4 linked regions of the Homo sapiens genome follow. The protein of the gene in region 2 purifies or fractionates together with the protein of the main gene of each other region. This does not show direct contact. Each region holds a gene or a part of one and is shown on either strand. Other genes may lie near its edges.

What was found.
Region 1: the proteins of PRKAG3 (region 2) and PFDN1 purify together in Homo sapiens (affinity purification with mass spectrometry; 4 studies listed by BioGRID and IntAct, with this or other methods). This does not show direct contact.
Region 3: the proteins of PRKAG3 (region 2) and CLTCL1 purify together in Homo sapiens (affinity purification with mass spectrometry; 2 studies listed by BioGRID and IntAct, with this or other methods). This does not show direct contact.
Region 4: the proteins of PRKAG3 (region 2) and PIP4P2 purify together in Homo sapiens (affinity purification with mass spectrometry; 3 studies listed by BioGRID and IntAct, with this or other methods). This does not show direct contact.

The regions. Positions count from the first base shown.
Region 1 is NC_000005.10:140,244,532-140,251,126, forward strand, and holds the end of PFDN1 (prefoldin subunit 1), read right to left. Parts: intron 1,527-6,595; coding exon 1,443-1,526; 3' UTR 504-1,442; downstream 1-503. UniProt on the Homo sapiens protein: Binds specifically to cytosolic chaperonin (c-CPN) and transfers target proteins to it. Binds to nascent polypeptide chain and promotes folding in an environment in which there are many competing pathways for nonnative proteins.
Region 2 is NC_000002.12:218,828,777-218,835,695, forward strand, and holds the start of PRKAG3 (5'-AMP-activated protein kinase subunit gamma-3), read right to left. Parts: upstream 3,028-6,919; 5' UTR 2,995-3,027; coding exon 2,962-2,994; intron 2,600-2,961; coding exon 2,560-2,599; intron 2,126-2,559; coding exon 1,970-2,125; intron 1,606-1,969; coding exon 1,202-1,605; intron 1-1,201. UniProt on the Homo sapiens protein: AMP/ATP-binding subunit of AMP-activated protein kinase (AMPK), an energy sensor protein kinase that plays a key role in regulating cellular energy metabolism.
Region 3 is NC_000022.11:19,281,711-19,288,738, forward strand, and holds part of CLTCL1 (clathrin heavy chain 2), read right to left. Parts: intron 1-7,028. UniProt on the Homo sapiens protein: Clathrin is the major protein of the polyhedral coat of coated pits and vesicles. Two different adapter protein complexes link the clathrin lattice either to the plasma membrane or to the trans-Golgi network.
Region 4 is NC_000008.11:91,030,840-91,037,867, reverse strand, and holds part of PIP4P2 (type 2 phosphatidylinositol 4,5-bisphosphate 4-phosphatase), read left to right. Parts: intron 1-7,028. UniProt on the Homo sapiens protein: Catalyzes the hydrolysis of phosphatidylinositol-4,5-bisphosphate (PtdIns-4,5-P2) to phosphatidylinositol-4-phosphate (PtdIns-4-P).

The sequences.
Region 1 (6,595 bases), on a different chromosome or scaffold from region 2:
GGATTACAGGCGTGAGCCACCGCTCCTGGCTGAAGTTTTCCCTTCTGGATGTCCCCTCACCCCTCACCCCAGCTCGTCAGCCGTGCCACTCATCTCATATTTGGCCACAGGGTGGCGCCAGGCTGCCATAGCAGCAAGTCCGATTTTCCTCCATCAGCTGGCCCGCCCAGCCCAGCCAGCCCGAGAAGCCGCAGCTGACAGCTAGCTCCCTGCCGACTCTGCCTTCCCTCCGAAGCAGTGGACGTGCTGATAAATGTTTACCGGTGCTCTCTTTAAAAAAAAAAAAAAAGCCATGTTTTGTTGCATGTCCTGTGTCTTATTTCTGATGTCCTGTGTCTTATTTCTGTGGTGTACGTGTTCTCACCATGCCATGGCTGATTTCAAGTTACCAATGTGATGTCACTGACTGGAGCTGGGAAGGGCAGCACAGGACCTGACATCATGTGGGATTTCTACCACCCAGACACAACAGAGCCAACCTCACAGATCACAGTCAGTGCACAGATAGAGCACAGATCGTGGTCAAATGTAGTAATTAGGGATGCATTTTGAATATTTATTGTCCTTGTTTTTAACATAATTTGCAAATTTACATAATTATAATGGCTGTGTTTGACAACTGGCTTGCAACAAAATTCTTGAAAATTGAATAATTGGCCCACCTGGGCTGGGATGAGCCAGCTGGATCACACCGTTGCCCCCTCAGCCTCTAGGAGGCCTCAGGATTATGGCGTCCATCTTATGATATTGGCCAAAAGGAGACAGTCTTGGAGGTGCTGCTTACTGTTGAACTTCCTTTTGGAATGTATGGGAGAAGGCAGGGAAAGGAATCTTTAGGCAGACTGCCATCCAGGGACTGCTATTCTGTTCACTGAGATTCAGCTGTGAACATCTGTTCTTTCTTCCTCTTCTGTCTACTGCATGCAGGCCCGGAAGCTGAGCGTTAGTCAAAGGTACAGGAAGGGAAAAGAGAAGAGGGCAAGGCCCATCCCCCAAGAAAGGAAGGGCTCTGATGCAGAGGGAGCAGGAGCTGAGGTGGAGACGGCCACTGCCTCTCTCACCCTCTGTTCCATCCCTCTGCTCAAGAAAACCAGGCTTAGCAGAGTGGGACAGACGCTTTTTATTGGTCTGGCTGGCGTGCCTAGTGGAAAGCTCAGGCAGAGCTTCCTATCTTGCCCTGGCTCCCATCTTCCCTCTCCTGGGAGTTCATCACACATCCCGAGAGGGAAGAGTGTCCTGGGCAGAGGTGGCAGGCAAAGCCGGGTAAAAACTCCAGGGCTGGGAAGCAAATGGGGCTCAGGGTGATGCAGAAAATGTGATGTTGCCAGGCCATCCAAATAAAGCATCCATCGGGGCAGAGGAGAAGCTGTTTCCCTGCAGACACTCCTCTGCCCCCACCAGGAATGGGAGGGGCAGGAGGAAGAGCTTCCCAGAGAGGCTCCCTACTGGGCCCTTCGTGCCATCAGCATCTCCCGGATGTTGTCCTCAGCTTCCTTAACGCTTCGCTCCAGGTAGGACTTTTTCTGCTGCAATATGAGAGACAGACAAAGGTTAGGACCAGAGTGAATGGGCCGGGCTGGAAGACACAGCTTTGATGTCCAATGGTTATGGCTTTTCCTTTGTGACAGGCAACTTTCAGGAGTATACTGCAAGCCAGGTACACACACCTGCCCACAGTGCTCCCCTCACCTCCGAACCATGGGTGATCACGGGCAGGCAGCAGGGAGAAGATGGCTTTGGTAGAAGCAAAAGTGCTCTGTGGAGGACAGGCAGTAGCACTCTTCCCCCAGAAGGAAGAAGACTCTAAAAAACAGGCGTCTCAGTACATGAAGTTATCCCAGACAGACAAAGGCCAGGAAATTCCAGGACAAAGCTCCTGTCCGTAACAGACTATCTCCTCTCAAGGTTTTCCATGGCCTGGGCCAGGCGTCTGTAGCCACTGCAGCTATAAAATGGATGGTGCACGCTCTGCCCTGTCCAGCAGGAATATGGGCTGCTGTGAGGGCTGTGGGGCTGTCTCGCATCGCACTGAGTGGGTGAGTCAGAAGGCAATCTGCTTTTCTAATGAGACTGCTGCCTGCCAGGAATCTGGGACACTAAAACACTGAGGAAAGCAGACCTTTTGGAGGCTTACCTTCTACTCCATCTGGGTCCTAAATTAAAAATCTCGGCTTAGACAAAGAACTTTCACTACTTTCAGGAGCCAAGATTTCAAAGATTAGTCAAAGGAAATGATGTCTGTACATTATTTGCCCTGTGCTCACCCCAGAAGTATGGTGGTTTTACCAGTGGTCCTTGCCCCGAGGACATAGTTGTGGCTGTATTCCCAGTTAACAGACATGAAATGAAGCCTCCGTTTTAGAGGAATACTATTCATGTCCTGAGGGAATACTCAAAATTATCACCTCCCAGGGCATATGTGACTGAGCCACACTGGAACCAGTAATACAGTCACCAGGCAGCCCAGGCCCTTCTCTCACCTCCACCCCCTTCACCCAAGCACCTGTTGATTCTGTTCCACCCATTAAAGTGCCCACAGGACTCAGGGAAGCAGGGAGAGTTTAGGGCAGAGGACAAGTGAGCTCTCTGTCCAATTAATTAGTTGTTTGTATGTTTTATTTATTTTTGAGACAAGGTCTCAGCTCAGAGTGCAATGGTGCAATCACGGTTCACTGTAGCCTCTACCTCCCACCTCAGCCCAAGTAGCTGGGACTCTAGGTGCACTGGGACTATAGATGTGTACCACCATGCCCGGCTAATTTTTTTTTTTTTTTTGTAGAAATGAGAAACTTCAATTTTTTATTTTTTGTATTGCCCAGGCTGATCTCAAACTCCTGGACCCAAGCGATCCTCCCTCCTCGGTCTCCCAAAGTGCTGGCATTACAGGCGTGAGCCACCGCGCTTAGCTATTTATTAAATGATACATATAGAGGCTTTTTCCTACAGAAGCCAAATGTGGCATACACAAATCTTTATCAGTTCTTCCGTGAACCTCTGATTCCTGTCTGTCCTCTCCTTGCTTCAAATTTCCTTAAGGCTAGAAAGAACCCTCTTTACTCATCTCCCATCTGTCCTAAGTTGCAGAGAATTCCTTGGAACACAACAGGAGCTCCATAAAAACTCATGGCCAGACACAGTGGCTCATGCCTATAATCCCAACACTTTGGGAGGCCAAGGCGGGCAGATCACCTGAGGCCAGGAGTTTAAGACCAGCCTGGCCAACATGGCAAAACCCTGTCTCTACAAAAAAATTAGACAGGTGTGGTGGGGGCACCTGTAATCCCAGCTACTTAGGGGCTGAGGCAGGAGAATCACTTGAACCCAGGAGGCGGAGGCTGCAGTGAGCCAAGGCCATGCCATCGCACTCCAGCCTGGGCAACAAGAGCAAAACTCCAACTCATGGTGACCATGATAACCATTCAATCCAATGCCTGCAAATGCATACTGCTGCTAAGGAATTTTAATTACATTGCTAAACCAAATACAGTCCTATCACTGTGATATCAGAGTGGGAATTTAAACTTCCTTTGATAAACAACTCTTTTTTTTTTTTTTGAGACGGAATCTCGCACTGTTGCCCAGGCTGGAGTGCAATGGCGCCATCTCGGCTCACTGCAACCTCCGCCTCCCGGGTTCACACGATTCTCCCGCCTCAGCCTCCCAAGTAGTTGGGATTACAGGCACACACCACCACGCTGGCTAATTTTTTCTATTTTTAGTAGAGATGGGGTTTCACTGTGTTAGCCAAGCTGGTCTCAAACTCCTGACCTCGTGATCTGCCCGCCTCGGCCTCCCAAAGTGTTGGGATTACAGGGGTGAGCCACCGTGCCAGGCCGATAAACAACTCTTAGACTTTAACTGTGGTGAGCTGAAAAAAGGCAAATACTAGTAAGCCCTGACACACACTAAAGAATGTATGTCCACTGGGTGTCACAAAGAGGGGAGCAATAGCTCGGTGCCATACACCACCTGGGCACCCTGTGGACCCCATGTGAATGCAGGGGAAAGGCGAATGGAATAAGCCCACTTCTCCTCCTACAAAAGTCCGCCAGGGCCCAGGGACTCTGGTCTGTTGCATTCAATCTCTGCCAACTTGCTGCCACAGCTGGCAAAACCATCAACTTGGAACATCAGCAAGAGCTCTTCTGCCCTCCCACCCAGACTCCCCAGCCAAACTCAGGCTATACCTCTCAGCTTTAAAAATTCCTTCTTCTGTAAAATCTCTGCTTTCTAACACTTTGATGAATTTTACCACTGCATATCCTAAAGTCTTCAGGTTTCCAAACAATGATGCAAATTAACATATCTATCTATATTTTTGTTTTGTTTCTAGAAATGGGGTCTTGTTATATTGCCCAGGCTGGCCTCAAACTCCTGGGCTCCAGCAATCCTCTTGCCTTAGAGGCATGTGCCACGATACTGCCTTCATCTTTAAATTTTTAATTAGTTTAAATAAACGTAGTAGACATTTCTTAAAAGAAAAAATTCCAACAGGACAGGACATCCCTAACATAGTGGACCTTTCTAACTGTATTTCAATAATTCCTGTCTCAGTCCCCAAGCATATTTAAGCCCAGAAGACTCTCATCATAATCAAACCCAGAACAAGGCACCTGTTGTGGGTTGAACTGAATTTGACAAAAAGATATGCTGAAGTTCTAATCTCTGGTAATTTGGAAAGAGGATCTTTGCAGATGTAACTAAGTTAAGATGAGATCATATTATATTAGGGTGGGCCCTGAATCCAATCATTAGTGTCCAAACAAGATGCTGTGAAGACCAATTCGTGGTAGCTTCAAATACAAGTAGAAAACCAAGTAGAAAACCAACACAATACCTGAAATGAGGGATGCCCCCAGACACCAATTCTACCACAATTATTTGGGGATAAGTATGATCCTAGCTTATAAAGTTTTAAGGGCAGTTACCCAGGCCTCTGCAATTCAGTATGGTCAGAGGCGTGGCAGGATTGGTCCTGTGAGTGCAGAAGAACCTTGGGAGGCCTCTGTCTCCACGGGTGTCTTAGTCTGTTTGTGTTGCTCTAAAGGAATACCTGAGGCTGGGTAATTTATGAAGAAAAGAGGTTTGTTTGGCCCACAGGTCTGCAGGCTATACAAGCATGGTGCAGCATCTGCTTCTGGAGAGGGTTTCTGGCTGCTTGCATTCGTGGTGGAAGGCGAAGGGGAGCCACCTGTACAGAAATCATGTGGCCAGAGAGGAAATGAGAGAGGAGGTGCCAGGCTCTTTTCAACAGCCAGTCAGTGAAGAAACAAAGCATGAGAACTCACTCCCATGAGAATGGTACCAAGCCATACACAAGAAACCCGCCCCCATAATCCAAACATCTCCCACCAGGCCCCACCTTCAACACTGGGGATCAAATTTTTTTGCGGGGGTTGGGGGGGTCTGGGGGTACCAAATTTCAACATGAGACCTGCCAGGGGGCAAAGAAACCCTATGCACACCACAGCAGGGGCATCCTTCATTTCCAGTGCGGTGCTGTGCTCTTGGGTAAGGGCACTAACCCCATTTAAAGGGCTCTGCCCTCATGACCTACTCATCTCCCAAATGGCCACACCTCCTAACACCATCATCTCAGGAGTTAGGATTTCAACAAAGACTTTAGGGAGAAACAACTATTCACACCACAGTACTTTTCAACTTCCAAGAAGCCATGCATGCATGGTCTTGGTTTCAGCTAAATCTCCGACCTCACCTCCAACAACTCTTCCCCGTCACTCCTTCAGCTCCAGTCACACAGGCCTCCCATGCTGCTCCTCCAATCCACCAGGTATGTTCCTGCCTGGCCTTTGCCCTTCGCTGTGCTCTCCATGTAGAAGTTCTCTTCCCCAGATATTCACATTACTCATCCCCTCACTTCCTTCAGGGCTTTCTCAAATGTTACCTTATCTGCGAGGCCTTCTTGAGTACATGCTGCCCAATACTCCCTATTCTCCTCACCTTGACTCTTCTCCAGAGCTCTTTCCACCACAGGAAGGAGAAACTGTCTGGCTTCCCTTATGAGACGGAAAGGTCCACAAGGGCAGGACTTTGTTCTGTCACCTGATACGGTCCTACCGTCTAGAAGAATGGCTGGCACATAATAGGAATTTAATGTTTGTTGAATAAAGTGCTTTAGTGTGGGAAATGACGCCTTACTGATGTACACACACTTTTTAGTTTTCCCTCCCAACTTGAATAATCAAGGAACGCCCAACAGAAGAAGCAAAGGCAGAAAATGACCATTTTCCTTCAAGGTGGTTTTCAGCTTTCGGCATTGCCCTCTCACCCCCTGCCCCTGGATATACACAGATTTAAAACTCCAACCTATCACTACAAACAATGTCAAGTATTTGAGGTAATGAATATGTTAACTAGCTTGATTTAATTATTCTACATTATATTCTTTTTATTTTTTTTTGAAACAGGGTCTTGCTCTGTTGCCTAAGGTAGAGTGCAATGGCATGATCTAGGCTCACTGCAAACTCTGCCTCCCAGGTTTAAGCAATTCTCCCATCTCAGCCTCCCGAGTAGCTGAGGATTACAGGTGAGTACCACCACACCCAGCTAATTTTTCTATCTTTAGTAGAGACGG
Region 2 (6,919 bases):
CACAGTACACGCTAGACATGATCGTTGCTGGGGACATGTACATAGATAAGGCTGTGGCCTGAGACCATGAGCCCCTCACCTGGCACACCAGGGAGTGAGAAATTCTAAGTTCATGTTTCCATTTGGAGGGTATGTGTGTACAGACACAGTCTAGTTTTTGATAGACTAAGTACCGGAGGCATAGTTATTTACATAACACTTGCATATTTACATACTTTTTTTGTAGATAAATTTTATATTGACTCATTTTGTGCCCCGTCCTAAGCAGTACTATCTGCACATGCTGGTTATATTTTTTTAACACAGCCTAAAACAAATATAAAGCTACTGAAATAGACATATTTTTTCACGAACCATTAGAATCAAAATGCATGCTATGGACAATACATACACCGTGTTTTGGGAAACACTGCACTGCATAACAATGATAAGAATAAGATTATAGACATTTATAGCTAAGCCTAATGGAAGAGCAGGTGCCAGAGCTCATTATTTTTTCTGTTACCAAGAGAGTCCCCTACTCTTTTTTCTAAGTCACTCTGTGATGCCTTTTTTTTTTTTTGACATGGAATTTCGCACTGTCTCCCGGGCTGGAGTGCAGTGGCACGATCTCGGCTCACTGCAACCTCTGCCTCCTGGGTTCAAGTGATTCGCCTACCTCAGCCTCCAAAGTAGCTGGGATTACAGGCGCCCACCACCACGGCCGGCTAATTTTTTGTATTTTTTTTTTTAGTAGAGATGGGGTTTCACCATGTTGGTCAGGCCGGTCTCGAACTCCTGACCTTGTGATTTGCCCACCTCGACCTCCTAAAGTGCTGGGATTACAGACATGAGCCACCGTGCCCGGCCTCTGCAATGTCTTACACATACTTTGTTCACGCTTTATACTGGGTAGTCCAAGAATCCTCTGAACTATGTAGGGTGCAGCAGGCATTTCGATCCCCATTTTAGAGACAAGAAAGGTAATGTAACTCAAGGTCCTACAGCTACTAAGTGGCAGAGCTGTGATGACAATTACGTGTGCTAACAGAGAGTAGAAGCTGTCCCTCCCCCAACTGGCCTCCATAGTGCTAAGAAGGAGTCCTTTCAGGGGGCTTGCAGGGGCACCTGGCTCAGCAGGGCATCCTGCAGGGTGGGAGTGGCGGCTGCAGCACCGTGTGGATGGAGAGTGAGTACAGGTTGGGCAGAGCCGTGGCCTCACCTCCAGCATGGTGTCGAAGATGACTAGCTTGGAGCTAGTTGCCATGGCATCGTAGCAGGTGTGCTCCTGCATGAAGCGCATGTAGATCTGGGCGCCGGGTTTCCGCAGTTCGTCATCCCAGCCCAGCTTGGGAAATGGGGCCTGCGGGGACAGGCACAGGGCAGGCCTCTCTTCCAGCAGGCCTTCTAGCTCACACTCCCAGGCCTCTGTGGCTGGGAACTCCGTGGCCAGCTCCACATCATCTGTGCTGGAGCCTGCAGCTGAGGCTGTACAGTCAGAGGGGAGGCAGTCCCACCCTGTTGGTGGAGTGCCCACCCCGGCAGGATCAGCTTGAGCCAAGGGTGTGGTCTTGGGGAATGTGGCCTCCAGCCCGGTGGACTCAGCAGCTGGCCTGGACCGGGGACCTGTTTGGGGGAGGAGGGGAAGAGGACAGTAACTCCATCTTCCAAAGCACGTTCTCATCTGCTGTCGCCATTCATCTCACAGCAGCAGTGGGAAGCCTGGATGCTGTGGCCCTATTTGCAGGTGAGGGGCTGACCTGAGAGTCGCCCCAGGTAGTGGCTCTGTCCCATCTTTCTGAGTTGGCCATGCTGGCCTCTGGCACTGCAGTGCCTTGTTCTCTACTATGTAGGGAGACTGAGGCCACAAGATGAAGGTTGGGTCCAACTCTGTGTTATGGAGGGACCTGAGGTAGAGACCAGACCCAGGCTCCTCTGGGATTTCCCACTCCCCTGGCTCCCACCTCCCCAGAACTGGCCTTGGCCTCACCTTCCCCCTGACCTGGTGGCTCCCCTTCCTCCACCGACTTCTGCCTTGTCCATCTCAAGGCTTTGGCCCTCCGTTTCCCACGGATTCTTTCTGAGCTGCTGGTCACAGCTGGTGATGGCCATGAGCTGCTGTTTTCTTGCTCTAGGAAGCTCATCTCTGGAAGGGGAATGGGGCCTGTTTGGTTAATAGGGAGTAATGCATCAAAATCAATTCAAATGTTATTCATAATCTTTAGGATTTGCAAGCTTCCAATGGGCTTTTCTCCAACATATTTCTCATTTAAAACTTACAGCAGCCTTATAAAGCAGGCATTATTATCATCCCTATTTTGCTAGTGAGGGACCAGAAATTCAGAGAGGTTAAGCAATTTGCTGCAAATCACACAGCAAGTAAGTGGGAAAGTCACTTCTGAAAAGAGGAAATTGGAGGTGAGGGAAACACACCTGGGGAAAGGAGGAAGAACAATGAGGAAGAAAGACCAAAAGGAGGAAGATAAAAGCCAGGCTGGGAGGGAATTGGGGTCCCAGAAAAGTGGGGGACAAGGAGGTGGGGGAAGAGGTTAGGCCCCAGGGAGGGGGCATTCTCCCTACCTTGATGCTCAGAACCCCCAAGGCTGCTCCAGGAAGGGGTCTGTGGGGAGAAGAGTTTCTGAAGGAGTGGGGAAAGTGCCTTACATTCCCAAACCCCTTCTCCCTGAACACACGCCTACACACCCATGCACACCAATACACACGCTCAGACACACGCCATACACAGACATGCAGCCATACACAAACACACACAGAAACACACACATCCAAACACTCCCAGGCACACAGAACCACACACACTCACAATACATATGCCCAAACATGCACATGCCCATATTCACGAGAAAATCCAGACCAAACACACACCAGAAGACACACACGCCCACACACACATTCACAGCCCGTGCGCTCAATCTTCTGGCCTCAGCTGCCCCGGCTCCGGCTCCCCTGGGACCCCCATACCCTGCGCAGTGCGTGCTCCAGCCCGGGCTCCATGTGGCCAGCCCCAGACCAACTGAGAGCAAGTGTGCGACACTGTGGCTGGGCTGCACTATTCTGGGCCCGGCCCCGGGCACCCTGCCCTGCCAGGATCGGTTTCTCTCTGATTGGGTGTCAGGCAATGAGAGGGAGGGGCCCCCATTTGCTCAGCTGCTACAGCCCTGAAGGCTGGGGGTTGCTGGGAGGGAAGGGGCGCACCGGATAATCTGGGTACTTGGTCCTCAGCTGCCTCCTGGGTCACTGAGGACAAGCTAGAGGGACCCTTTTTGAGGGGATGTGGCTTGGAGCATGTGGGAACATGGTCATTGAGCAGAGTTGGGCTCTCAGAGTCCTGAGCCCCTATTCCAAGAGCCTCCCTCATCTTTATCAGGCACCAAAGAAGGGAACATGGAGGCAGATCAGCATAACTTTCTTCCTTGTTCTAATTTCAGTAGAGGGTGGTGCTGGAGTTAGAAAGGGCAAGTTGCAGCCAGCTCAGAGGCTGGAGATGAGGCAAGGGGTTTGTGGGTAGTCCAGGAGAGCAGCTAGTGTATGTCCAGATGTCCAGATTTGAGTCCCTGGAGTGTGTCCCTCTCTCAGGTGAAGGAGATGGAGTGGGTGTTTCAGGCAGGTGAAGAGCTGTGAGAATCACCTCGAAGGCGTGGGGAGCACTCAGAGCTCCCCGCAGGGGAAGAGACATCTGTTTCCACCTGTGGTTGGGAGATATGCCTGGGTGTGCAGGTGTCCCAGCCCCCAACCCTCTGTGAGTGCTGTGCCTACATCCCTGGTGCCAACAGGATCCCAGCCTGGCTCCAGTAGCTGCCACCCTCTTCCTTGGCATTCCCGGAGCCTGAGTCAATGTCCGGATTGGGAATGCTGACCCAGCTGCTCCGGCTTTCCTCTCTCTGCCCCTCCCTTTCTCTCCTCCTTCCAGCCTCTTCCATCCCAGCCCTGGCCCTGGAGTGGACACTCAACAACAGACTGGTGAATTTCTGTCTGAGTTTATTACATGTGTTTTCCATCAACCCTCAATGTTCCTACTCTGCCAATGGGGAGGGTGGAGGAGAATGGAGTTGGGAGGACAGCCTTGGCCAGGGCTGTTCCTGTGGTCCCCAGCCTTTCTCAAGGACATCTGCTCACTGGACAGTGGGAACTGGCTCAGAGGACAGAGATCAGTGTAAGAGAATTTCCTTCACACCAAGCATGTTTTTTCAAATGGACTCAAGATAGCCACCACCAGTTTGAGAGAAAGGAGAGTAGGAAGAACACCAAGTCCAGAGTGTTCAAGCATAAAAATAAGGTCTACATGAGGCCATTGGCTGTGGTTACTCAAACATGGAGCCACTCAGAAGGCTTCTAAGATTGTGAGGGTGTTGTATTGGCAAAGAAACCATAAGCCTGATCAGCAAAGCCTGGTTTGACACCCCTTCCCTTGCCTTATTCCCAGCCCTCCAAATCCGCACCAGCAGGAAGAGGGCTGTGAAGGCTGGAAGGACTGCAGAAAGCACAAGTTTGCCAGTGTGGGACAAAGGATATTGGATAAACAACAGCTTCCCAGCAGGAAAAGCCAGAGGCTACATAGGAGAGTGGAAAGGGGAGATCTTCCCAGAGAGCAGAACCAGGGGTGGTCAAATGTGCTGACCAAGAACTTACTCCACTGCCAGGAAAGGGCTTAGCCATTCCTGCCCAACCAGATTTGATAATTAAGATCCAGCAGCTGCTGGGTGTTTGCCATTCTTTCAGTTGCAAGTGGATTTTTTTTTTTGAGACAGTGTCTCACTATGTTGTCCACGCTAGTCTCAAACTCCTGGGCTCAATGATCCTCCTATCTCAGTAGCTGGGACTATAGGCGCGTAGCAGTGTGCTCAGCATGAGTCAGTGTTTTAATTGAGCTTACCCTCTTCTTCCTCCACTGTTGTCTGTGGGGAGTAGGAGGTGCAAATCACCTGCCTGTTAGTTTTTAGGTCACCAGACCATAGGGTGTCCATCTACCTGGAAGAAGGAACTGCCCACCCCTCAGATAGCCTGGACTCTCAGCTGGGTGCCGTACTCAGATGGAACTCTGACTTGCCTCCTTTTGAAGGGCAGTAACTGTGTTTTTTGTGTGGGATGGCCAGATGGGTGAGCTCTAGTAGAGCAATATCTCTTCTACCCTTCTTCTGCTGTTAGTAAACCACTACAATTTTAACTGAATGCAAGATTATATTTCACAGCTTCTTTTGCAGATAGTATGGCCATATGACTAAGTTTGACCATGAAATTTGAGCAGCAATGTTATATACATATATATTATATGATAGAAGGGTACCCCTAGGAGGAAAGGGAACCCTTTCTTACTGGCTAGAATTACAATACGATGATGGGAGCCGGAGCAGCAAACTGAACCCAACGATGGAAAATGCAGTTTGAAAATGATAGAACATCCCCCACCCCTGTCCTGGTCTGCCTACCTCTGGATTGTTATGTTAGAGATAAATAAATTTCTGTCTTGTTTAAACGATCGACAAATTGAACCTTTGTTATAGCAGCCAAGCCTCTCTCTAACTAATACATCTACGTTGCAGGATTGAGGTAGGATTAGGAATTACATATGTAGATAATGACCCTGCATGTTCGTGCAGTGCTTAGTGTCTACTACACACTGTGCAAAACACATTATATGCCATGTCCTGTGTAATCCCTTGCAACCCTGTGAGGGAAATACTTTGACTATTACAATTTTACAGATGACAAAACCAAGGCATAAATAGATTAAGTAACTTGATCAAAATCTCAAAGCTAGTGGGATGGAGCCAAGAATCAAACCCAGACTCAGGCACCACATTTATAACCACTAAGCTTTATGGAAGACACAGACCTGCCCCCTCTATACCTCCAACCATGAGGCTTTGAAGGCAGGCAGGCAGGCAGGCAGGCACGGGAGGGCTCTGACCCTTCAGTAGCCATCTCCTGCTGCTGTCAAGGTTGGGGTGGAGGAGGACTCCAGCTGGGGGTACACACCAGCACTGCTCAACACTAAAAGCATAGCAACTTCACAGTTTTCAAGAAGAGCTCTGCCTTGCCCCTTCTCTCACCCTACACCTGCCTTTCGCCTCTCAGATCTCCACCCTGCTCTGACCACAAGCCTGCCTCCACTCATCGTCTGGCAGGGCAAATCAGCAGGAGGTACTGGCTTCAGTTGGGTAATAAATACTCCTCGGGTGATTGATTTTAGCCTCTGGCCATGGCATCATATTTCTGGAAACCCTACTTCTTGGCTCACTCGCAGACTGGGTATATAATAAGGACCCTGCACCCTGACCCTAGGGTGAATTTGGCTGCTATCTCTGGAGATCTGATTTGTCTCGGACATGGGGTTGGGGAACCTGTTTAAGTGTTATTTTTATATCAGGAGGAGGAAAAACAGCTTGAGGAGGCCAAGAGAGTAGCCTGGATGAGACCCATTACTGAATAAATCACAAATAGGGTCCCCTAGGCCAGAGCAGTTGGGAGGCTGGGAGAGCAGCCTTCATATCCATCACAGGACACAACTGCTCTGTCCTGTTTGTGTGTGGCTAGACGGAGCAGCATCTGTGCAAATGTCTGAAGGACCTGGAAAGAACCAGCACCTTGTTAATGCAATTTAGTCTGCGCCACAGGCCCCATTACTGAGTCTTTTTCTGTGAGCAATTGGGAATTGTAGTGGACAGTTGTTGCTTTTCTATACCCAGTATCCATTTACCCCATCTTTTGGCAAACTTCTGGGTTTTCCTTTAGGAAACCACATTCCCTCAATTCACCTGCAGCACATGATTTTCAGAAGGGCTCAACTGTGGGTTCCACGAAGTATTCCTCTGGTTCAGTTGTAGCCAATTAGCACTCCAAATGCCTCTGGCCACAGTGAAGTGGGCATTGACAGAATTAGTCCAATAGGGGTGAATCCTGGGACTTTTGCTGGAGTTAG
Region 3 (7,028 bases), on a different chromosome or scaffold from region 2:
GTTCTCAGTTTGGGGATCGATGTTGGGTTAATACGGTGACATTCTGATTTCAACTCCAAATACCAAGAATTGGTAATCCTGAATAATTTGTATCCAATCTCTTGAGCATAGTGGGTTCTTAAATAATAGTAGCTGAGTCAAGTTCCTTATCTAAGAGCATACATACACATGTATGGCATTTGAAAAAGGTAAAAGTCCCTCACAAATAAGACAGTGTTTTAACAACTGAGAAGAGTGGATCCAAAAATAAGATAAAGACTATTAGAATCAGATTAAATTAAGACAGTAGTTCTCAACCAGGAGTGCTATTCTGCATTCTTCAGAAATGGGAAAGGGGCGGCCGGGCACGGTGGCTCACGCCTATAATCCTAGCACTTTGGGAGGTCGAGGTGGGCAGATCATAAGGTCAAGAGATGGAGACCATCCTGGCCAATATGGTGAAACCCCGTCTCTACTAAAAACACAAAAATTAGCCAGGCATGGTGGCGTGCACCTGTAGTCTCAGCTACTCGGGAGGCTGAGGCAGGAGAATTGCTTCAACCCAGGAGGCGGAGGCTGCAGTGAGCCAAGATCGCGCCACTGCACTCCAGCCTGGCGACAGAGCCAAGACTCCGTCTCAAAAAAAAAAAAAGAAATAGGCAATGGGTTCGGGCGCAGTGGGTCACGCTTGTAATCCCAGCACTTTGGGAGGCCAAGACGGGTGGATCACTTGAGATCAGGAGTTCAAGACCAGCCTGGCCAACATGGTGAAACCCCGTCTCCACTAAAAATACAAAAATTAGCTAGGCCTGGTGGCATGTGCCTGTAATCCCAGCTACTCAGGAGGCCGAGGCAGGAGAACCCAGGAGGTGGAGGCTGCAGCAAGCCAGGATCACTCCACTGCACTCCAGCCTGGGCGACAGAGCGAGACTCTGTCTCAAAAAAAAAAAAAGAAAAAGAAAAAGAAAAAAAGAAATGGGCAAGGGTAGTTTTAATAGTACAATGAGTGGGGAACTCATTCTCTACTCATTTAGCCAGGAATGCTCAATACAGGACAATCCCACAAAAATAACTTTTCCATCTAAGATGCCAGATACTACTGTGAGTTTTTCTCCATACGCAGGAACTAAGTCCCAGAAAAGTGATGTGCTGAAAAGCCAGGTTTTTTCTTTCTTTCTTTCCTTTTTTTTTTTTTTTTAGACAGAGTCTTACTCTGTCACCCAGGCTGGAGTGCAGTGGTGGCACCATCTCGGCTCATTGCAACCTCTGCCTCCCCAGTTCAAGTGATTCTCCAGCCTCAGCCTCCCAAGTAGCTGGGACTACAAGTGCCCACTACCACGCCTGGCTAATTTTCATATTTTCAGTAGAGACGGGGTTTCACCACATTGGCCAGACTGGTCTCAAACTCCTGACTTCAAGTGATCCACCCGCCTCGGCCTCCCAAAGTGCTGGGATTATAGGCGTGAGCCACAGGGCCTGGCCCAGGTTTGTTTTTTTTTTCACTAGTTAGTAGAAATAACCAAGGATTCCTGATCCCTAGTATATTATTCTGATAGGTAACCTAGCTACACATTTTTAAAAAAATTTTCTTTCTTTTTTTCTTTCTTTTGAGACAGAGTCTTGCTCTGTCGCCAAGGCTGGAGTGCAGTGGTGCAATCTTGGCTTACTGCAAAGTCTGCCTCCCACACTCAACCGATTCTCATGCCTCAGCCTCCCAAGTAGCTGGGAATACAGGTGTCCGCCACTGCACCTGGCTAATTTTTGTATTTTTAGTAGAGACAGGGTTTTGCCATGTTGGCCAGGCTGGTCTTGAACTCCTGGTCTCAAGTGATCCACTTTCCTCGGCCTCCCAAAGTGCTGAGATTACAGGCATGCACCACTGCACTGGACCTTAGCTACACATTTTAAATGGCATATATAAGATTTAACTAAAGAAAGGTAAAGAAGATGCTGTCTAATGATCCTTTTCAGTTCTCAAAGCCTGCAATTAAATCAATCAAAATTCAAATCTGACAATGGGGGCCAGACATGGTGGCTCATGCCTGTAATCCCAGCACTTTGGGAGGCCGAGGCGGGTAGATCACTGGAGGTCAGGAATTCGAGACCAGCCTGGTCAACATGGTGAAGCCCTGTCTCTAGTAAAAATAAAAAACTTAGCTGAGCATGGTGGCACACGCCTGTGGTCCCAGCTACTCAGGAGGCTGAGGAACAAGAATCGCTTGAAACCAGGAGGCAGAGGCTGGAATGAGCCAAGATTGTGCCACTGCACTCCAGCCTGGGTGACAGAGACAGACCCTGTCTCAAAAAAAAAAAAAAAAAAAAATCTGACACTGGGGAATATGCAAAAAGAAATTACTCATCTGATAGTCCTGTGGTTTCTATGTATAAGGGGCTTAAGGAAGATGTCTGCCTGGGAGGACTACAACTGTGTTTGTACAAGAGTATTAGTGAGAACATCAACTGCCTACATCAGTGAAGCCAGAATGCTTAAGTTGCACTGAACATCCCCATGTTTTCACACCTATGTGGACACCAATATTTTTTCTTTCTGTATCTGTCTCCTTCCCAGTCTCACTCACTGCTTTATCCTTGTGCCTAGCATATGGATGGTAAACAAATAGTAAAACAAATTACTTGTTTCAGGGCAGTAAAATTTAGTTCATCTACAGTTTTTAAAACATACTTTGAGGGCCTGGCGTGGCTGCTCACGCCTGTAATACCAGCACTTTGGGAGGCCGAGGCGGGTGGATCACCTGAGGTCAGGAGTTGGAGACCAGCCTGGCCAACATAATGAAACCCCATCTCTATAAAAATACAAAAATCAGCTGGGTGTGGTGGCGGGCACCTATAATCCCAGCTACCTGGGAGGCTGAAACAGGAGAATCACTTGAACACGGGAAGCGGAGGCTGCAGTGAGCCAAGACCACGCCATTGCATTCCAGCCTGGGCAACAAGAGTGAAACTCTGTTTCAAAAAAATAAATGGGCTGGGTGCAGTGGCTCACACCTGTAATCCCAGCACTTTGGGAGGCTGAGGTGGGCGGATCACGAGGTCAAGAGATTAAGACCATCCTGGCCAACATGGTGAAACCCCATCTCTACTAAAAATACAAAAATTAGCCAGGCATGGTGGCACGCACCTGTAGTCCGAGCTACTCAGGAGGCTGAAGCCAGGAGAATCGCTTGAACCGGGGAGGCAGAGGCTGCAGTGAGCTGAGATCATGCCACTGCACTCCAGCCTGGTGGACAGAGCGAGACTCTGTCTCAAGAAAATAAAATAAAAAACACATTTTATATTTGAAACACGCTGGGCGCGGTGGCTCACGCCTGTAATCCCAGCACTTTGGGAGGCCGAGGCAGGCGGATCACAAGGTCAGGAGATCGAGACCATCCTTGCTAACACGGTGAAACCCTGTCTCTACTAAAAATATAAAAAATTAGCTGGACGTGGTGGTGGGTGCCTGTAGTCCCAGCTACTCGGGAGGCTGAGGCAGGAGAATGGCGTGAACCCTGGAGGCAGAGGTTGCAGTGAGCCGAGATTGTGCCACTGCACTCCAGCCTGGGCAACAGAACAAGACTCCATCTTAAAAAAAAGAAAAAGAAAAAGAAAAAGAAACTTACCAAAGAGCCTTTCCTAGCCTAAAGAGGGAGCTCTGTAAATGAGGGCCTATGAAGAATGTTGACACTAAGGTCTCTTCCAGAACTTACATTCCAGGAGTAGGTTAGTTCAGGGATAGTTAACTACATTTATATAATGCTTTACAGAACTTCTCTCAAATTACACTATTACAGGTTTTCTTTATTTTAACACCAGTGCACAAGACTCTATATTTATCCCAGTTAAATGTCAACTAGCTGGATTCTGGCCTGTCAAGATATATCCGATTCTAATTTCATCACTGAACTTTGCTATCCCAGCTTTGTGGCATCCTTCTTCAGCCTGCCAAGAGTGATGGTCATCTCTCTGGCATGGAGGCCAGCAGCAGGCCTCAAGAGAAGTGGAAGAAAATGTGGGAGAAGAGCCTGCAAACTCAGTAAAGTCTCAGTGAAGAAGCAAAGGAAGGAAAAATCAGACAGATTGCAGAAAGATTCCCCCTTAGAGAAGGGGGTGACAGGGTGCCAGCAACTACTACCCTAGGGAATACTGATAAACAACATGTCAGATAGATGCAGTGATCTGTCTGTGATCCTATGGGAGGATCTTCAGTGTGTTAAGTTACAAAAGCAAAGGGCAGAAGCATATTTAAAGCAGGATTCTTTTGAACATTTTTGGAAGGATATGGTGGCTTCGTTTATAGTGGTTTCCCCTGGGGAGAGACAGACAGAGGCTGAACTGAAAGATTTTAATTCCCATCAGACTAGCCCCTGCAACAGAAATATCTCAGCAGAGAGGAACCTTGACTCAGATCCTCCTAGGACTTAATTCTTTCAACCCAACCAACTAAAAAAGCACTGGTTTGTGTAGCTTAGGCATTCTGAACATTTAAATGTTCTATGGTGAAGATCTGTTTTTCCAAAGAGTCCCCATTCAAATTCATTTACTCTTTGGTCACCCACAATGCCACAGCGGTAGGTACTCCCACAAGGCTCACCCTCGCAGACACCCTGGCTGAGGCAGGTTACTCTCCTTGCTTTGTAAATAAACAAGTCAGAAGGCAACTAACTGGCCAGTATGTATTTCCAATACCAGAAGCAGTGGTAGGCCAACAGGCAAAATTTAACAGTTTACATGGTATCTTAAAATGACATTTTACATGGGATGCAATAATTTTAGGATGCAATGAGCCAACTGCTGTCTTAGTACATCAAAAACCACTTCACAAAATGAGATAGCTACATAATGGCAACATAAACCAAATATGGACTGGATTACTATGGGTACGTGTCCCTTTTTGGAGCATGACCCCCAGAAGCCTCTCCAGACACACACGGGTGTGTGTGGATGGGAACTGTTTTCAGTTCAAGCTCAATCTACACCTTCACAGTTTTACTTTCCCCCCTCTTTCCTTAATGATTAATATTGACTAACATGTAGAAGGCTGTTTCACCTGGGCTGTGTGTAAGACTCACCTGGGAAGGAATACCAAAGCTCCATCTCCACCACTCAGAGCTTTGGATTTAACATCCAGCAGAAATATGTTTAAGGCTGCAGGCCATTCTCACATGCAGCCTAGGTAGAGAAGCACTGATTAAGATCTTGACCATCTTTCTCCTACAATTCTAATGCTCAAGGTCTCTACACCTGTTTCAAACACCGCCTCAGAGACACTTTGAGGGAACATGTTTACGTTTTCTGTGTATTGAGCTATGACACATTTCACAGCTTACAAACTTGGAGCTGCTTTTTTGATATAGCTGGGGGGAATTACTTAGGGCTCAAGAAAATTTTTATGTCACCAAACTATTCAGCCATTCCTCTTCTGAATCAAGATGTCTTAAGTGCTCAGCCCATCCTCAGATATTACAAACAGCAATACCCTTCCAACTCTCACATTTGAATATTTCTAAAAAGTTCAAATGGTAGCTCCCTGAGCTCACAATCCAGCAGAGAAAATGAACAGCTACAGTACCCTGGGAAGAGTGTCATTATAAGAGGAACCCCAAAGAGGCACAGAGGAAGAACTCCTAACTGACAAATCAGGGAGAGCTTCCAGAGACAGCGTCATTTCCACAGATACCAGAAGGCTCAGTAGGAGTCAGTGAGTAAAGAGGGGTGAGAGGAGAATGTGTTTTGGCAAGGACACAAAGGGAGCGGCAGCAGAGTTGAGCAGGTGTTGGGCTGGGAAGAACAGGAAAGAGCACGTGGGGATCAGTCTTTTCATGCCAGAGGAAACACGAAACCACTCCCTGAAGGACTTTAAGCAGATGCTCATCCTTGGAGATCATGTTGCCTGTGTGCTGGAGAATGGATCACAGGAGGGCAAGACTAGAAGTAGAAGGACAAAGCTAGCATGACCATCAAGGTGGGGAGGGATGGCATAGTTTAGGGAAACGGTAGTCATGATGACAGTGGCAGAACGATGCCAAAAGTAAACAGGAGAAAGGGACAACAGGATGGGGAAAACACATCCCAGGCTCCTGGCTGGACACTGGACAAGATACACATCTGGGGAGAAAGGGAACCCCATTTATGAACACTGTGTTTGAGGAACCTGCTGACCATTTCCTGGCCTTCTTCAGTAGGCAGCTGTCACAATGGCAGCAACAGCTCACAAGGACACAGTGCTTTACAGTAGTCCCTTCTTATCCGTGGTTTTTTTCACACTGTTACCTATAGTCTGAAAATATTAAATGTAAGACCCCAGAAATAAACAATTCATAAGTTTTAAATTGCATACCATTCTGCAGAGTGATGAAATCTTGCACCAGCCCACCCAGGACGTGAATTATCCCTCCTCTGCCCAGCATATCCACGCTGTAGACATTGCCAGCCCATTAGTCACTTAGTAGCGGTCAGTTACCAGGTTGACTGTTGCAGCATCACAGAGTTTGTGTTCAAGTAACCCTTAATTTACTTAATAATGGCCCCAAAGTCCAACAGTAGTGATGCTGGCATATTGTTATTATTGTTCTGTTTTATTATTAGTTATCATTGTTAATCTCTTACTGTGCTTAACATAAATTCAGCTTTATCATACATATGTATGCATAGGGAAAAAAAGTGTATAAAGGGTTCAGAACAATCTGCAGTTTCAGGCATCCTCTGGGGGTCTTAGAACATATTCCCCATGGGTAAATCGGGACTACTGTATTATGTAACAGTTATTGTTTAATGCTTTACATTTATTAACTCAAAAACCTCACAACTACCTTGTGAGATAAGAAGTATACCTTTTATCCTTATTTTATAGATGAAGATATAGAAGCACAAAAAAGCTACAAACATTGCCCTAAATCACACAGCCAGTAAGTGCCTGAGTCCACATTCAGTGCCTTCAGTTTGGCCTCAGTCTGTGCTCTTAACCAGGACCTGCTACTGCCTCACACACACACAGCAGTGAAACTGCGAAAACACTCGGATGGCTTGGGAACATCAAGCTTATGGGAATA
Region 4 (7,028 bases), on a different chromosome or scaffold from region 2:
ATACATCTGCTAATTTTGTAGTTAGGATATAACAAAAGAATATGACCTTTGAATTTATAAGATTTTTTCTGTGAAAATTGTTTATATCTGGGGTTGTCTCATTATGTATTCAATATGGAAATGGGATTATATACTTCACTATAATTCATAAAGGGAAAATAATAATTTGTTATACAGAGGCAGACAGTTTGATTTACTTAGTTTATTATTCAGCAAATAAATATTTGAGTACCAGCCAAATCTGTGGTAGGAGAAGAAAAATAGTCATGGCTCCTCTTCCAGTGTAGTGGGGGTATTGAGAAATAAATTATGTAATCACACAAACAGATGCAAAATGCAATGGTGATGAAGACAGTGCTGGAAATATATGCAATACCTTGAGAGTATAAATTAAGATTTAATTTTGTTGAGGGAGTCGGGGAAGGCTTTCTTGATGCTTGAATGAGATCTGAAAGTTGAGCAAGAGTTAACTTGGCAAAAGGTGGACTGGAAGACCATTATAGGCAAAGAAAGCAGTATTGGCAAAGTGATCAGCAGGGTGGAGTATGACAAATACAAGGAACTTAAGGAAGGCCAACGTGGCTAAAATGGAAACAGCAGTAGGAAATGCACTGCAAAATGGGACTGGAGAGATAGGTATGGTGGATATTCTCCGAAGACTCTCTTTCCCCTTCAAAGAACTATGTCTTCTGATATTCAGTTTCCTCCCCTTGAATCTGGGCTGATGCCATGACTTGATTTTGACCTCTAGAATAAGGTAGAAAATATGCTGAATGACTTTGGAGGGTAGGTCAGAAGAGGTTTTACAGCTTTTATCTTGGTCTTTTGTAAAGTACACTCTGGGGAAAGTAACTTGTCATGTAAGAAGTGGAACACTCTGAGACTGCCATGCTTTATGGAACCTGAAACTAGCCTGGTAGAGAGAAAGATGCCTGACCAGCCCTCAGACATGTGAAGGGAGATGCCATCTTGGATGCCAAGCTCAATTGAGCCTTCACATGACTCCAGCCTTAGCCAAATTCTTACTACAACCACATGTGGCCAACTTGTTCTGCAGCAACAGATGACCAGAATAATGAATATGAATCAGCCCATCCAGGATATTGTTGGTCATGTTAAGGAATATTGCCATAAGCAAAGGGATGACTGGATTAAATCTTTATTATTAGTTTTTAAACCACTCTATAGATTAGAGAATGAATTAGAGGATTGGCTAGAGTAGACAAGAATAGATGACTTCCTTGATTATTGTAATAATTCGGGCAATTTAACTGAACTATTTCAGTAGCTTGGACTCAGGTGGTGGTAGAGATGGAGAGATGAAGGATGATGTTAAGGAGGTGGATTGAACAGGGCTTGATGATGGATTGCACATGGAAGTGAGGGAGAAGTGTCAAGGGTATCTCCTAGAATTCTGGCTATGCAACGTCATGGTGTGATTACCAGAACACCAGAAGACGGAGAACACCAGAAGAGGACCGAGTTTTGGGGAACACGGATAATGAACTTAGTTTTAGACATGATGTATTTCAGATGCTTTCAAATATCCAAGAAGAGATGTGACAATTGGATCTACAGATCCCATTTCTGGCAAAATGGGACCTGTAGTGTAGATCCGGTTGTCATATCTCTTCTTAGTCCTCGTTTCTTAGGACTAAGAAACGGGGCCTGGGCTGAATATATAAAATTGTGTGTTATTTGCATATTGGTGATAGCTAAATACATGGATGTTGATTCAGAACTTCCCAGGGCCCTACCATAAGATGTGCTGTGATGGAACATACATGTGCTAAGGTAGTGATTAAAGCCTTCAGGCCAGAGGCCTCCAGTTTTTTTGGTTTTGTTTTTTTTTTCTTGAGACAGGTTCTTACTCTGTTGCTCAGGCCGGAGTGCAGTGGTATACTCATAGCTCACTGCAGTCTTGACCTCTCAGGCCCAACTAATCCTCCCACCTCAGTCTCCTGAGTAGCCACCACACTCGTCTAATTTTGTTGTATTTTTTATAGAGATGAGGTTTCACCAGCTTGCCCAGGCTGGTGTCAAACTCCTGGGCTCAAGCAATTTGCCTGCCTTGGCCTCCCAAAGTGCCAGGATTACAGGCATGAGCCACCACACCAGGCCCAGCGACCTCCAGTTCTAAGATGTCATACACATATTGTCATTTTCTCTGTGTACCACAGTGTGAAAAACTTTGAGGCGCTCCATATGAGATAACCTAGGGAGAAAGAGTAATCTAAGAAAAGGAGAAAGCCTGGACAAAGCTTTGAAAAACCTTCACATTTAATGACTAGGGAGAGGAAGGTGAATGTAGCTGCCGGCAAGGTGACAAAAACCAGGAGATGATAATATCACAGAGTCAAGAGCAAGAAAATACTTCAAGAAAGGAGTCTTCATGCAAAAGTTTAAGAAAGAGCAAAGATGGTAAGGACCAAAAATGTCTTTTGAAGTTAGTGTCATGGAGATCATTAGGGACTTTAGTGACAGTTGTTTATATTTGTTTATATTCAAGCTCTTTTTAAAGAATTGAAGAATTATCTATTTCCATCTAATGTAATATTCCAATGTACCTTTATTTTAATTGTAAACTGACCTCAAAGCAGCTTAACATAAATGAAAAGGTTAATATTCCTTTACTCTGAAGCTCATTTAGGTTTTCTATGAAGCGTAATTGTCATAATTGTGTTTTAGAAGACATTGCCATATCCTTTTCACCTTTAAAAAACATGTAATCTTGAAATTGCTTGAGAAAATGTTTTCAGTGAGTAGAAAAATAAAATAAATTGACTCCTGGTTTTGAGACATATCATTTAATATGTACTCTTATGCTTTCTTAGAAATCCTACAGTAAATAGGTTTATTTTTAGTGACTCTCATGTCCTATACCTGGAGAAATCTAAGGTTAGAGATAGTGTCTTAGTTTAAAGTTAGGTAAGGTCTTAGTTCATTTTTAACTATGTTCTACACTAGGCTAGACTTTTACTGAATTAAAGAGATTGAATACATTTTGGCAGTCTTTTAAATTGCTGAGTCTCCCTGCGTACTTGCAGAGTATAAGGTTGTCTGTGGATTGGCAGGAAGAGATGACACAGATCCAGGGACTCTTACCACATGCACAACCCATTGTAAGACTAGATTAAATTCTCACTTTACTTGCCAAGGATTCGGAAACCCACTGGAAGCCAGATTGTCACAATGAGGAGAAAAGGATGCAGGATATTTGAGAGCAGCTTCCTGAAGCTCCCCCAAGCCCCAGTAGAGTGTTCACCTGCTGTGATACTGAGCAAGCAGGGCCTTGGCAAATATGAGAAGCCTATTGTGCTATGCTAATGCTAATGCTCCATTTAAGGGAATTTTTTTCAAAATGGTTCTTGAATCAAAATTTGCTTCACTGAGGCCACATCCTCTTCAAGGAAAAATAGAGCCCACACATTGGTGAAATAGATCGGCTTCTAGCTTTCCAGTATGGTGGTGAGCTCATTTGCTGTTGTAGTCTTTTTGTCATTATTCTGTAGGCATCAGGCTCCAGGATTCTTATATTCTGTTTTATAATGCCCACATTTCCTTCTGTCTATACTGAGCATCTTTAAAATATTAAGAAATGTTTCATTCAGTCATCCTTTCAAATATTTGAATGCCTATTACAGTATTCCAGATGCTGGAGAGCTTACATTCCTGTGAGAGATACATACAGTAAGCGTTATAATTTCAGAGGGTGAAGAAAATAAAGCAACCTGTGAGGGTGGAGAGTAACTGTTTGGATGGCAAATGTTTGAGATGAGCGTCCAGGAAAGACAACTCAGAGATAGCAATCACCGAGAGACCTGAAACATGAGTTGGATCAGCCTTTGGAAGATTTACTGAAAGAGTGCTCCAGGCAACGGGAACAGCAAGTATAACACTTGCTATTTTAAAAACAAGGAGGAGGCTGGGCACTGCGGCTCATGCCTGTAGTCCCAGCTACTCATGAGCCTGATGCTGGAGGATCTCTTGAGCCCAGGAGCTTGAGGCTGCAGTGAGCTGCGATTGTGCCATTGTACTCCAGCCTGCGCAACAGAGTGAGACTCTGTCTCAAAAATAAATAAATAAATAAACAAAAACAAGGGACAGTGGGTTAGAGCATGGTGACTTAGAGGACAGCAGAAGAGGTAGAGGAGGTGCGAGGTGTAAATGAGGGAAGCCCAGGGGAGATTTCTATTCCACCTGCTGAAGAAGGGATTATGTCCTGAGGATAATGAGAAGCTATGGAGAGGTTGGAGCAAAGGAGAGACATGAAAACACTTTACTTTTTAAAAAAATCACCCTTGGTTGGCATGTGGAGGAGAACAGACTAATGAGACATGACACTAATCAGGATGCTGTTAGAGCAGAAGAGGCAACAGGGGACCAGGGTACAGGTGACAGAAGCACTGAGGTGTGGTTGGTGTCAGGATGTATTTTAAACAGGACTTGCTGATGGGTTGAGTCAGTGAAAAGAAAGGAATCACAAATCTCCAAAAATGACCCAACTAAGTAGGTACAAGGTTATATCTGAGATAGGCAAACAGGAGGAAGAGTTGGCCATGTGTTTGGGAGGTGGGAGAAGAACAGTGGAAGTCACTATTCTGTTTCAGTCATGTGGAGTTTGCAATACCTTTAGTTATTCAATTAGAAATGTGAATTAGGCAGTTTGTTGTACAAATCTGAGGTCTGAGAAAACTTGGGGTTGGAGAGCAAATTTCATTCAACAATTATTTATTAAATGTACAGTAGCATTTTCCTGGAGAGGGAGACGATGCTCTCAATTTCCTGTTTGTTTCCAAGGACTATGCAGACTCTTCAAGAATGTAAAACTTGTAGGGTAGAGCATTCTGTTAAAATTTTGGAAGGTTTGCCAAATGCATACAAATGTTAGCTAGATGGATATAGATATTGGAGAAGAAAGTTAACAGGAGGGATGTTCATAACTATCTTTGAGGGCAATAAACAGCTATCTGGGAAGTGATCTAAATGGAAACTGTAATACTTCCATTTGGGAAAAGCAGGTAACCCTGAATACACCTTGTGCTCAGGTGTTTTGTGTTTCTTTCTTTTTTTTTTTTTTTTTTTTTGAGACAGACTCTCACTCTGTTGCCCAGGCTGGAGTGCAGTGGCATGATCTCGGCTCACTGCAACCCCTACCTCCTAGGTTCAAGCAATTCTCCTTCCTCAGCCTCCCAAGTAGATGAGACTGCAGGTGCCTGCCACCACACTTGACTAATTTTTGTATTTTTAGGAGAGGTGGGGTTTCACCATGTTGGCCAGGCTGGTCTCGAGCTCCTGACCTCAAATGATCCACCCACCTTGGCCTCCCAAAGTGCTTGGATTACAGGCATGAGCCACCGCGCCTGGCCTGTGCTTCATTTTTAATGAGTAAGAGGTATTCAATAAATTGGGAATGGCATTCCATAGTAGCTCCTGAAAAGGAATACATTCTTCCTGCTGTTTCTGTTATTTTATGAGGGTTTCTATGCTTTTTTAGAAAAATTTTTGGTGGTAATGGGGGTGTGCAAAGGAGTTTATGTTGCTTTTGAACTTTTCTAGATTTTTTCTTTTCCAGTTGCTGTTGTAAAGTGAGTTCCTTTTCTTCTGTAAAAACCACAACAACCAAATGTGAAAAAAGCAAAAAGCATGGTTCCTTTTTCTGGACTTCAGGTGCATTGTGCAAGTATTGTGTAACTAACTCCCTTTAGAGTCCAGAGAAGGTCTGCCACCAGGTAGTGTTTGGCTTGGGAGACCTGAGGCTTTTTATCTCCGCCAGTTACTACCTGTTTGGCCTTGGAATCGTTACTTTACATCTCAGGGCCTCAGTTTCCCACATTTATCCAAGGAGTGGTGCATTATGTTTCCTTTGGCTTTTATATTTTATGACACAGTTGTTCTTAGGAAGCTGGACACACTTAGGAAAATATATCTATAAATTTACCTTTGGCTTTTATATTTTATGACACAGTTGTTCTTAGGAAGCTGGACACACTTAGGAAAATATATCTATAAATTTAAAATGTAGATGCTTGTTATCCTTTCTTATCTCACTCTTTTACTTCCAATGTCCCTCTTTCACCTAAATAGCTATTCCTTCCAGTATGCTTTTAGAAATGAGAAAGATAATATATTGAAGATTAAGGATGTTACATGACTCTTGTAAAAATTAGAAGCCCAACTAGCATGCACTGTTTTATTTCTCTGTAGAATATATTTGCATGTGTGTGCTGCATGATTGATTAGGGCATTTTATTCTAAGCATTTACTTCTAAAGGCAATGGCAAAATTTTTCTTCCTCTCATATTGAGATATTTAGGCTTGGTCAATCTGTAGTAAGGATTTTAAAACAGTGTACAAGAAAGCCCCGAATTTTTTGACATTTTTAACATGTGATTTCCACAGGGGGAGAATTTGGAAGACGGCATGTTACAATATGACATTTTATTGTTTGAGAGATTAAGTGCTAAGACTGACAATCCAGAGGAGAAACAATATAGAGAAATGATAGTGAGTAGACTTAAAGTGAGATTTTCAGACACCTTTTAGACCATTGGACATATCCAAATAAACATTGATTTCTATTAGCTGTATGGATTTTACAAACTAATATAAAGTTATTTTAAAGTTTTGTAACAAAAGCATTTTCCAAGTTTATAGAATTTGGTTGTCATGTTCTAGTTCTCTATATAAAATACCTTGCCAGGCTCAGCAAAAGTCGTATTTGGATTTGCTACCATCCCTTAATGAGGACATAGGTCATTATTAAAACTATCAGACATGCCTGAATACAAGATGACCTAAGTGGAAGCCATGTGGTCTTTTATGACCCAGCTTCAAAAGTCAAATATAATGTCATTTCTGCCATCCTCTATTTGTCAAAGCAGTTACAAATACCCAGATTCAAGACCTTACCTCTCAATGGGAGCAGTGCCAAAGAAGTTGTGGCTTTTTTGTAAAACCACCATAATAAGCCATGTCATATCCATAGAATGAAACAACATGATGCTGGAAAAGAAATTATTAAACTC